Linked DNA regions of Homo sapiens. The protein of the gene in region 2 interacts with the protein of the main gene of each other region in a biochemical or structural test. Each region holds a gene or a part of one and is shown on either strand. Other genes may lie near its edges.

The links. The genes of interacting proteins can lie anywhere in the genome.
Region 1: the proteins of SLCO1C1 (region 2) and MPP3 interact in a test that uses a peptide from one of them, tested with the Homo sapiens proteins (one large-scale study listed by IntAct).

The regions. Positions count from the first base shown.
Region 1 is NC_000017.11:43,801,746-43,806,632, forward strand, and holds part of MPP3 (MAGUK p55 subfamily member 3), read right to left. Parts: intron 133-4,887; coding exon 1-132. UniProt on the Homo sapiens protein: Participates in cell spreading through the phosphoinositide-3-kinase (PI3K) pathway by connecting CADM1 to DLG1 and the regulatory subunit of phosphoinositide-3-kinase (PI3K). Stabilizes HTR2C at the plasma membrane and prevents its desensitization.
Region 2 is NC_000012.12:20,732,713-20,737,599, reverse strand, and holds part of SLCO1C1 (solute carrier organic anion transporter family member 1C1), read right to left. Parts: intron 4,692-4,887; coding exon 4,496-4,691; intron 494-4,495; coding exon 328-493; intron 1-327. UniProt on the Homo sapiens protein: Mediates the Na(+)-independent high affinity transport of organic anions such as the thyroid hormones L-thyroxine (T4), L-thyroxine sulfate (T4S), and 3,3',5'-triiodo-L-thyronine (reverse T3, rT3) at the plasma membrane.

The sequences.
Region 1 (4,887 bases), on a different chromosome or scaffold from region 2:
CTTCTCTAAGACCACTTTGAGCTGGCTGTAGGCACCCTGGAGATCCTCCTTCACCAGCACGGCGTCTACCAGGTGCCCGTAATGCCGGTCTATGAAGGCGGCAGAAGCGGCCATCTCTTGCTGCTGCTCATCCTGCAAGGAAAGGGGTGGTAAAAGGAGCAACTGGGTTGTTCTCCTATAACAAACCTATAACCTTTGTCTTGAGCAATGTTCCAACCTTTAACTTTTAAGTGATGAGTGGATGACTAGGTCCCACTGATAACCAACTGTGTACACAAGAACAGAGCATAGGGACAACATCATGTCAAACTTCAAAGAAAGTTAATGGGCAGTAGACACAATCACTGTTCAGTCATTCACTCACAGAATACCTCCTGAGGACCTATGAACTCAAAGCCACGATAGGAAGTGCATTGGGGATGCTGATTCTATAACTGTGTATATATGCTAATATCACACTTCCTGCCTCAGAAGTACTTCCAAAGAAGTAGTAGTATTGTGCCGCATGACATTCAGTACACAGGTTAAATAATTATAAGAAAGAACTATAAATAATAACTATATAAAAACAGAGCAAACATTTCTGCAATCAACTGGTGGAAGAAGGAGAAGAAATCATTCTAATGCCCTCCTGAAGACTCCTAAATTCACAGTGCAGAACTCAATTCACTTCCTCACACCAGAGCCAAACACTAGCACAGCAAAGTGGAGTTATTTAAGAAAGCACTGGACAATTCTAATCAAATTCCCCATTTCCTTAGGGCAGCTGATCTCTTTAATCAGATTGCTTTTCTGACACTTAACATTAAGGTATAGGCAACAACTCCATCTTACACAATGTGGGCACTGTTTGCATCTTCATTCAAAAGAACCTCTAATAAGTATTATTTCAAGTGAGTAGTTGTCTGACAATTAGCCTGGTTTTGGAAAACAGGAAAGTGGCAGGCCCATTCTAAGTAAAATTACAAAATAAAATTTGTCGCTGGCATTCACTCACTGCCCTTTTTAGTTCTCTGTTGCTGTCTCCCCTCTGCTTCTAGGGGCTCAGTGTTTTCATGCTGCCACAGGGAAAGGGTGAGTTCTGTTCTCTCCCAAAGAGACCTACATTCCAAATATTCCCCCCTCTTCTCTGTCACCAGTCAAAACCCAATTCCTACATTAGTGAGAGCATCTGAAATTTCAGGATTCGAGTCCTCAAGATCCAGGAAAAGGGTTTGGCATGCTACTTCAAAGATAGTAGAAATGTAAGAGAAGGCTGAGATAATTTCTTCTCCTTTTCTCCTCCAGGAGGGAAAAAATTCGATTAAATTGGGAGACACTTCTCAATTCTATATTCTATATAGAATATTCTTGCAGGGCTACTTTCATACTCAGAAGCCCTATCCCGTAACTGCCCCCGGATCTTCAACCCCACCTTCCCCACTCCCTGACACACACCCATCCTATAGACCTGTCTGCTGCTTCCAGTTTCCCCTCCTCCAGGCACCCACACGGTTCATCCTGGAAGCATTTGGCTATTTGAGAAATTACAGAAGGAAAATTTTTGCCACAAAGAACCACAATCTACCTAATAAATATCTGCATCTGGAAAGAACTTAAGTAAATCTCTAATGGAGTAAAAACGTGTGACATTTGCTTAGCAGTCATAAATCCCCTGAACTCCTTTCCTGGCCTGTAACGATGGAACTCGCCCACCTGTGTCTTCAGCAAGAGTCACAGTCCCGAAGATCACATAGGAAAGATTCCCCTGTGCTGTCCGTCACCCCCAGGTTGGATCAGCTTTGCCGGGTCAGAAGCCAGAAGCCCCATTAACTTGTGGTCAGCAAGGAAACAGAGGATGTTTTGGGTCCCCTACCAGGAACTCAGGTGCCAGACAATGGACAGATATTTAAAGTTACACAAAACCCATGCCTTTGTGAGGAATTTCTCCAAATGTCATCTGGGGTCTGCCAACATACATCAAAACCACATGAAAGGCTGTGTGTTAAAAATGGAGTGCCTGGGCCCCACTCCAAACCCCCTAGGTCGGAATCTCTGGGAGTAGAACCGGGGACTCTGTGTTGAACAGCCTCACTGTGACCCTGCTGCCTACTCACAGCTGCAGTGTGGTGGAGCATGAACGGGCCAGCTGCATTTCATCATCAGCCCACCTGCTTGGAATGCAGCATTCTGGTGGGCAATAAAGGAGATGGGATAGATGACAAAACCGGCCAGGCTGGAAGGACACTGGGAATAGAATGCAGCTGCTTCTCTTGAAATAACAACCATGGGCCAGGGAGGGTTCTGAATCCTAGAAAGCTGGCACTGCCTGTGGACCTGATGATTTGGCCTTGAGTCCTAGGAAGCTGCCTCTTATTCTCCCAGTGACTTCTTGACTCTTTGAAAAATGAGCCATTTCCCCCTGCTTATTCAATCCTGAAATATTTGCAAAACAAAACAAAGCCAATATAGTAAAACAAATGGGCAGATTGATCCTAAAATTCATATGGAAATGTAAAGGACCCAGAATAGCCAAAACAAGCTTGAAAAACCTGACTTCAAAACTTACTACAAAGCTAGTAATCAAAGTAAGACAGTGTGGTGCTGGCCTAAGAATAGACATGTAGACCAATGGAATGGGACTGAGACTCCAGAAAGAAACCCTTACTTTTCTTGCCAATTGATTCTAGACAAGGGTGTTAAAATAATTAAATGAGAAAATAGTCTTTTCAACCAGTGATGCTGGGGTAACTGGCTATCCACATGCAAAGAATGAAGTTGGACCCCTACTTCAGACAATCCACAGAAAATAACACAAAATAGATGACAGATCCAAATGTAACTGCTACAACTATAAATATCTTAAAAGAAAACAAAGGAGTAAATCTTTATGGCCTTGGATTCGACAATGATTTCTTAGATATGACACCAAAAATATAAATGACAAAAGAAAAAATAGATACATTGGACTTTATCACATTTTAAAATGTTATGCCTCAAAGGATGCTATCAAGAAAGTAAGGACCAGGCGTGGTGCCTCCCAGCACTTTGGGAGGCCGAGGCAGGTGGATCACCCAGGTCAGGAGTTCGAGACCAGCCTGGCCAACGTGGTAAAACCCCATCTCTACTAAAAATACGAAGGAAATTAGCCGAGCATGATGGCATGCGCCTGTAATCCCAGCTACTTGGAGGTTGAGGCAGGAGAATCACTCGAACCTGGGAGCTGGAGGTTGCAGTGAGCCAACACCGCACCATTGCGCTCCAGCCTGGGCAACAAGAACGAAACTCTGTCTCAAAAAAAAAGAAAGTGAAAAGACAACTCAGAATGGGAAAAAATATTTGCAAATCATGCATCTGACAAGGGACTTGTATCCAAATAGATAAAGAATTCTTACAACTCAATAACAAAAAATGGACATTTAAAAATGGACAAAGTATTTGAACAGACATTTCTCCAAGAAAGATATAAAAATGGCCAATAAACACATGAAAAGATGCTCAACTTCACTGATGATTAGAGAAATGCAAATTAAAACCACAATGAGATACCACTTCACACCTACTAGTAGTGCTATGATTAAAAAGACAGACAATAACAAGGGCTGGTGAGGATGTGGAGAAATGGGAACTCTTGAACACTGCTGCTGGGAATGTAAAATGGTACAGCTGCCATGGTAGAGTTAAACATAGAACTACCCTATGACCCAGCAATTCCATACCAAGGTATACACCCAAGAGAAATGAAAACATATGTTCACACAAAAACTTGTATATGAACATTCATAACATGATTCATAATAGCTGAAAAGGTAGAAACAATCTAAATGTCCATTAATCGATAAATGGGTAAACAAAATGTGGTACTCTATACAATGGAATGTTATTCAGCCATAAAAAAAGAATGAAGTATTGATACATGAATGAACTTTAAAAACATTATATTAAGTGAAAAAAGCCAGATACAAAAGGTCTTACATTGCATGAATCCATTTATATGAAATGTTTAGAATAGACAAATTTATAGTGACAGTAGATTAGCAGTTGCCTGTGGCTAGGAAGGGGCTGGAGGAAAACAGATAATGGGAAATTCTAATGGGCTCAAGGTTTCTTTTTGAAGTGATGAAAATACTCTTAAATTGACTGTGGTAGTTGCAACAACTCTGTGAATACATCATTGAATTGTATGCTTTAAATGTGTGAATTGTACAGTATGTAAATTTTATCTCAGTAAAGCTGTTAACTCCCCCTCCAAAAAACACACAGAAAACAAAACAAAATTTAGTCATGAGCCCACTATTCAGGGAGAATTGCCTTTAGCGTTTTAGTGTATTTTGTGTGTAACACAAAATTAGAATCCTGATTTTTTATTTTGATTTATTTTTTCTTGTATTTAGCTATGTCATCAAATATTCCTCCAACACATGGCTTTTATTTATTTATTTAATTAATTTATTTTTTTGAGACAGAGTCTTGCTCTGTCGCCCAGGCTGAAGTACAGTGGTGCAATCTCAGCTCACTGAAAACTCTGCCTCCCAGGTTCAAGTGATTTTCCTGCCTCAGCCTCCCGAGTAGCTGGGATTACAGATGCCTGCCACCACGCCCAGCTAATTTTTGTATTTTTAGTAGAGACGGGGTTTCACCATGTTGGCCAGGCTGATCTCGAACTCCTGACCTCTGATGATCCACCCACCTCAGCCTCCCAAAGTGCTGGGATTACAGGCGTGAGCCACCACTCCCGGCCCCAACATATGGCTTTTAACTGGCTATAATACTTCAATACATCCTGTAAGTGTCACATAATGGAGTATATTGAACTGAGTCCTGACAGTGAACATTATTTAGGTTGTCTCTGATTTTTTTGTTATATGATGGGCATACTGTATGTTTCTTTTTTTTGTTTTTGAGATG
Region 2 (4,887 bases):
TCTGAAAGCATATCTTATTATGATGATCATACGACAGACATTCTAATTCAGGGCTAACACTTCTTATAAGCAAAATGAGAGAAATAGACTACATAATTACAAAATCTCTTCCACCCTATTTGATGACTCTAATTCTCACCCTAATTTTTTCAGCAACTCCAGTACCACTAGGAATGGTTATAACATTTTCTTTTTCTACAAAAAAGGACCAGGCAGAGGTAAGAGGCAAGCCTCCTACTAGTAGTGGTCTGCTGTGAGCCCCCATAGAGTTTTGTTGTTTATATTGTAACAGGACCATCGCCATATACTTGAGAGGTGATTTCTTACAATATTTTTTCCACTCCTGTTGGAGGTTTGACAACCAGCAAGACAAGCTGATACATATGTGATTCCATTTTCACCGCACATGGGTTCCCATTTTGTCTCTGAACATTTGCATCTTGAGTTGCAATCTGAAAAGAGAGCTCGTTCATGATAAGAGACAGGTTTGGTTCTGAAAAGAAATATAACAATATAAAATATTACCTCTTAGCAGGTAGCACCCGAATATTTTCAAAAAATCAATGTTCTTGAGTGATATAAATGATACTATGAACAAAATTTGCCTTTTAGAAACACAGTTGTCATCAGAAATGGCAGCTTCTGGTCATGAAATGTGAGTTTACTAATAAACAGCTTTCTCTTGAAAGTTATCTTTAGAGGTTTACAAATTCACATGATGTCCAGTTCTTAGCTTATAGCTTTCAGTCTACAGCCTCTAGGATCTTCTAATATACTTCTGTGCAAAGGTGTATAAAAATAGCTAACAAGGTAGAAAAGTAAACTTTTAGAGCAATTTATGACACTACTTCAATGCATCACAGGTGGGGTGTGTGTGTGTGTTGTGTGTGTGCAAATTTCATTCAGAATTGTTGTCTAAGTATGAGTGGAATGGATATTACTAATGGTCCAGTAAAAGGAAAAATAGCCAATCAGTTATCAGTTAATTCTCTTTCAGTGTTTGCAGGAGTTACATGTCCTCTTGCATGTGTGTAACCAACAAGTGCATTCCCAGTTCATTCAACCTTTCTCCTGTGTATCCTCCCAGTGTATAGTGCTCTTTCATATCTTATAGCATCCTTTCTTACTCAAATTCACAAGTAAGTTCAATGACTTACCCATTTATTTGTTGATAAAATTTTACTGGAAGCCTACTAAGTGCTAGCTCCGGGAGAATAGGAGATGGTTACAAACATTAATGAGACAAAATTTGCACCCCCCCCCAAAATTGGTTTTTTTGAGTTATTTCACAAAATTGTGATTGCATTCTTTCTTTTCTCCTTCATTTTTTTTTGTTCTCTGCCATTCGCTTTTATATTTATCCTTCATCTCTCCCAGTATTCTCTCTCCCTCACTTTTTTTTCTGTCACCTGAATGGCCTAATCCTTCTGCTTTTATCCTTTTTTTTGCTATTCATATTCCTCTACTCTTCTCAAAAGGAACTTTTGCAATGGTATGTCATTTCTATCTGCACCATATGTGCCATTCATTGGCCCTCCATACTTCATTTTTTCTGCTCCTTATTTTCAAATTTATTTATTTGCTTATTCCTCATATCTTTCCTCCCATTTTTTATAAAGATAGCTGAGGAGCTTAAACAAACAAAAAATACACTGAACTGTACAATCAAGAGAGGCAGGAACTATTTTTGTATTCACTCCCATATGTCCAGAACCAGGAATAATTCCTGTCACACAGCAAGCTAAGAAACAAAATTTCCAGTAAGTTAGTCAATTAAAAAATGGTACTTTATTTTGGAGAAATAAATTAATCACTTGAGCCTCTGCCTCTGAGAAGTATTGTCATTAATGATGGCAACCATAATTTCTTAATCAGTGTAATACTTCATCTAGTAGAACTGGTATGATGAATTTTGTCACCTCAAAAGTACAAACCAAAGACCTCTGAGATGTCTCCAAATAGTGTGAAAGGGTACTGAACTAGGCCTTCTGAGATGTGCTATAGGAATGTTTAATCCTATTCTCTTCCATAAAATTTTAATTGTTAACTGAGACTGTTTGTATTATCTGAAAGTATAAAACTGCCTTTTAAAGTCTAGAATCATTTAACTCTGGAAACTGTAGGGCTGAGATTATAGAAGGTTGGAGCTGGAGGGAACATTGGAGTAATCTATGCCAACCTCTTACTTGGCAGATCAAGGAAGTCAGCCCCTACGTGGGTGGGTAACATGCTCAAATTCACACTGCTTGCTAGTGACAAACCTGGAAACTGAACCCTGCCAGGTTTCTTGATTGTAAATTCTTATGTCCACATCAGAGTTGTCCTTGTTATTGCAGAAGAGAGATTTCTTCCATTATCATATCTAAGACTTGTCTTCAGTTTTCCTATTGAATATTCAGGTCAAGACAGCGTTTGGAATAAAGCAACATGGAAAAACCCATGGGAAACATTTTATATTTTATAAAGAAAAATACTTTATAGTATTGAAAGTTTAATTTATCATCAGGGGCAGGAATCATTGGGATACATCTTTTCTGAAGGATGTGCTGACAGTAGATTTGTAATTTAGAATTTTAATTATAAGACGAGTTTTAACAAATATGCCAGAATGTTTATGCCCAAATGAGATTTCCTTTCAAGATAGTTATGCTGAAAGATGAGAGCTTTTCCTTAAAGGTTAAATCTTTGCCCTTGTTAAGAATATTCTCAAAAATATACAAAGAAATTCAAAATAAGAGTCTTAGAATATTTTAAACAACAGTAGCATTACTGCAATACAATTATAGTCTTTCAAGGTGACTCCTTTGAAGAGGCTAGTACTCACTCAATGAAAATGTTACCTTTTATTTGTTTAAAATATTTAATCTTTGATTATGTAGGAATACTTTTAATGGGAATCTCAAAGTTTGCTTTTGTTGTCTGCTTTGTGTTTACTTTTGGCTTAGAAATTATGATGCAGAAAGAATGTTCTACTTTGAGTCACGCCTGTGTTCAAACCCCAGATCCATGCAGTTTCTTTTAAACAAGGATAACAAAACTAAACTCATAAAGGTGTTTTGAGGATATAATGAGATCATGAAAGTTAAGGTGTTTTGGAAATCACAAACTATAAAGTCCTCTACAACTGTCCCTCTACCGTGAGGATTTCTGGGACAGTTAAAGATGGCACTGGGCTTCTGCTCTCTCCAGAATCATCTTCCATTTCATTGTTACAACTAACATTCTTAATCCATATCACTGACTTTCACTAAGGCAGCACTACACTCAGCTGAGTCTAACAATGTGGCTGTGATAACTCCCAGAAGCCGTAATTTATGAACTTTGCATTCACCAATCTTCCTGAACATTGTAGATGGCCAAAACTATAACAGGCGCTCATTTAGCAGCAGATGAAACCAGGTTAATAAAGGTGATGGAAGTTGGAACATAGAGACAAGACAGATAAGCAGGGAAGCAAGAGTAGGACGGGAGATGGACAGCAGGCTGTAAGCAAGAAGCCACAGAATAGGCAGGAAACAGAATATAGTGTCAGGAGTGTTTGCTTTTGAGCCACAGGCAGAGTTTCAGGTGGCCAGGCAGATACAGTTGGGAAGGCCTTCCTGGCACATGATGGAGACTCGATAATTTTTTTAGAAAACAAATAATGCATATATAGGTGAAATGATGAAGAAAGTTACCTCTGGAAATTCATGTGAAGTGGTAGAGTGATGGGAAAGACTCTCAATGGGCAAGGGCAATATAGTTCCTACAAGATTCAACCTTGTATTGAGAGAGACTCTGGAAACCAAGCAATGTAATCACCCACCCCATACAAGATGAGAGGCCTGAAGGCATCACTAAATATTCTCCTGACCAATTGCAAGACACTCAGCTAAAGAGAACTTTTATGGGGAACACTGGGTTGAAGGACAGGCGTTGTTTCCTGAAACTTTACATGATTCAAGCACAACAGCAACTATGGAGGATTGCAAAGAGGTAACTCCAGTTCCTCAGATGTTCAAAGGAGGAAGAAAACAATTGTTTCCATGAATGGCACATTTAGCTTGTGTCAGGCAAGTAGCATTCACTTTCATGTATGTTAGCTTGCTTAAACCTTACAAAAGTTTAAAAGGTAGTTATTACTTCTGTTTTTAAGATGGGAAAATTGAAGTTGGATTAGTTTAAACCACATGTACATCATTTCATTAAGAATAGACAGAGGCATTATTCAAGGTTTGTATTTCTGCTATCATGTTGTTTTTCTAAATTAATCAGGTTGGTTCTCTAGTGTAAAATATGGGTTTAGCAATTTTTATATTTCTCTACAATCAAAGGAGATGATAAATTTTGGTGACAATAACAGATTCTAGGTATTGTCAGTTATTCCACAATAAAATACTAAGTTGCTTACCATAGTTATGATGTTTAAAAATCAAATTCCTTTTTTGCAACTCCACCAATAATTGATTTAATTAAACAAACCAATATCCTCAAACTATTTAATGAGGGAACATACCCTTGGTAGGAGACAGTTAGTCCTGCCACATCAGAATTTTCACAGCCCAGTGCAAACAGGGAAAGAAATAGGAGGTAACCAAAGACAGATGATCCCAAGTAGAGTTTTGCAGCTCCACACACACTGATTCTGAATTTTTTCATAACTATCCCCCCAGAGAATATTCCAAGGGCCACTGCTGGAATGTTGATGAGCCCTGAGAAACAAGAAAAATATATCATTTTGTGAATCTCTAAAAAAGATTTGAGTGTACTAACACAAACTTTCTAAAGACTATTTTGTCACTTTAAATTATAGAAATAGTCACTATCATCTACTGACATATACAAAGAGTGTATGATGAGTATCTAGGTTATAGATTAATGGTGGTACAACTGCACAGTCTCAGGTTC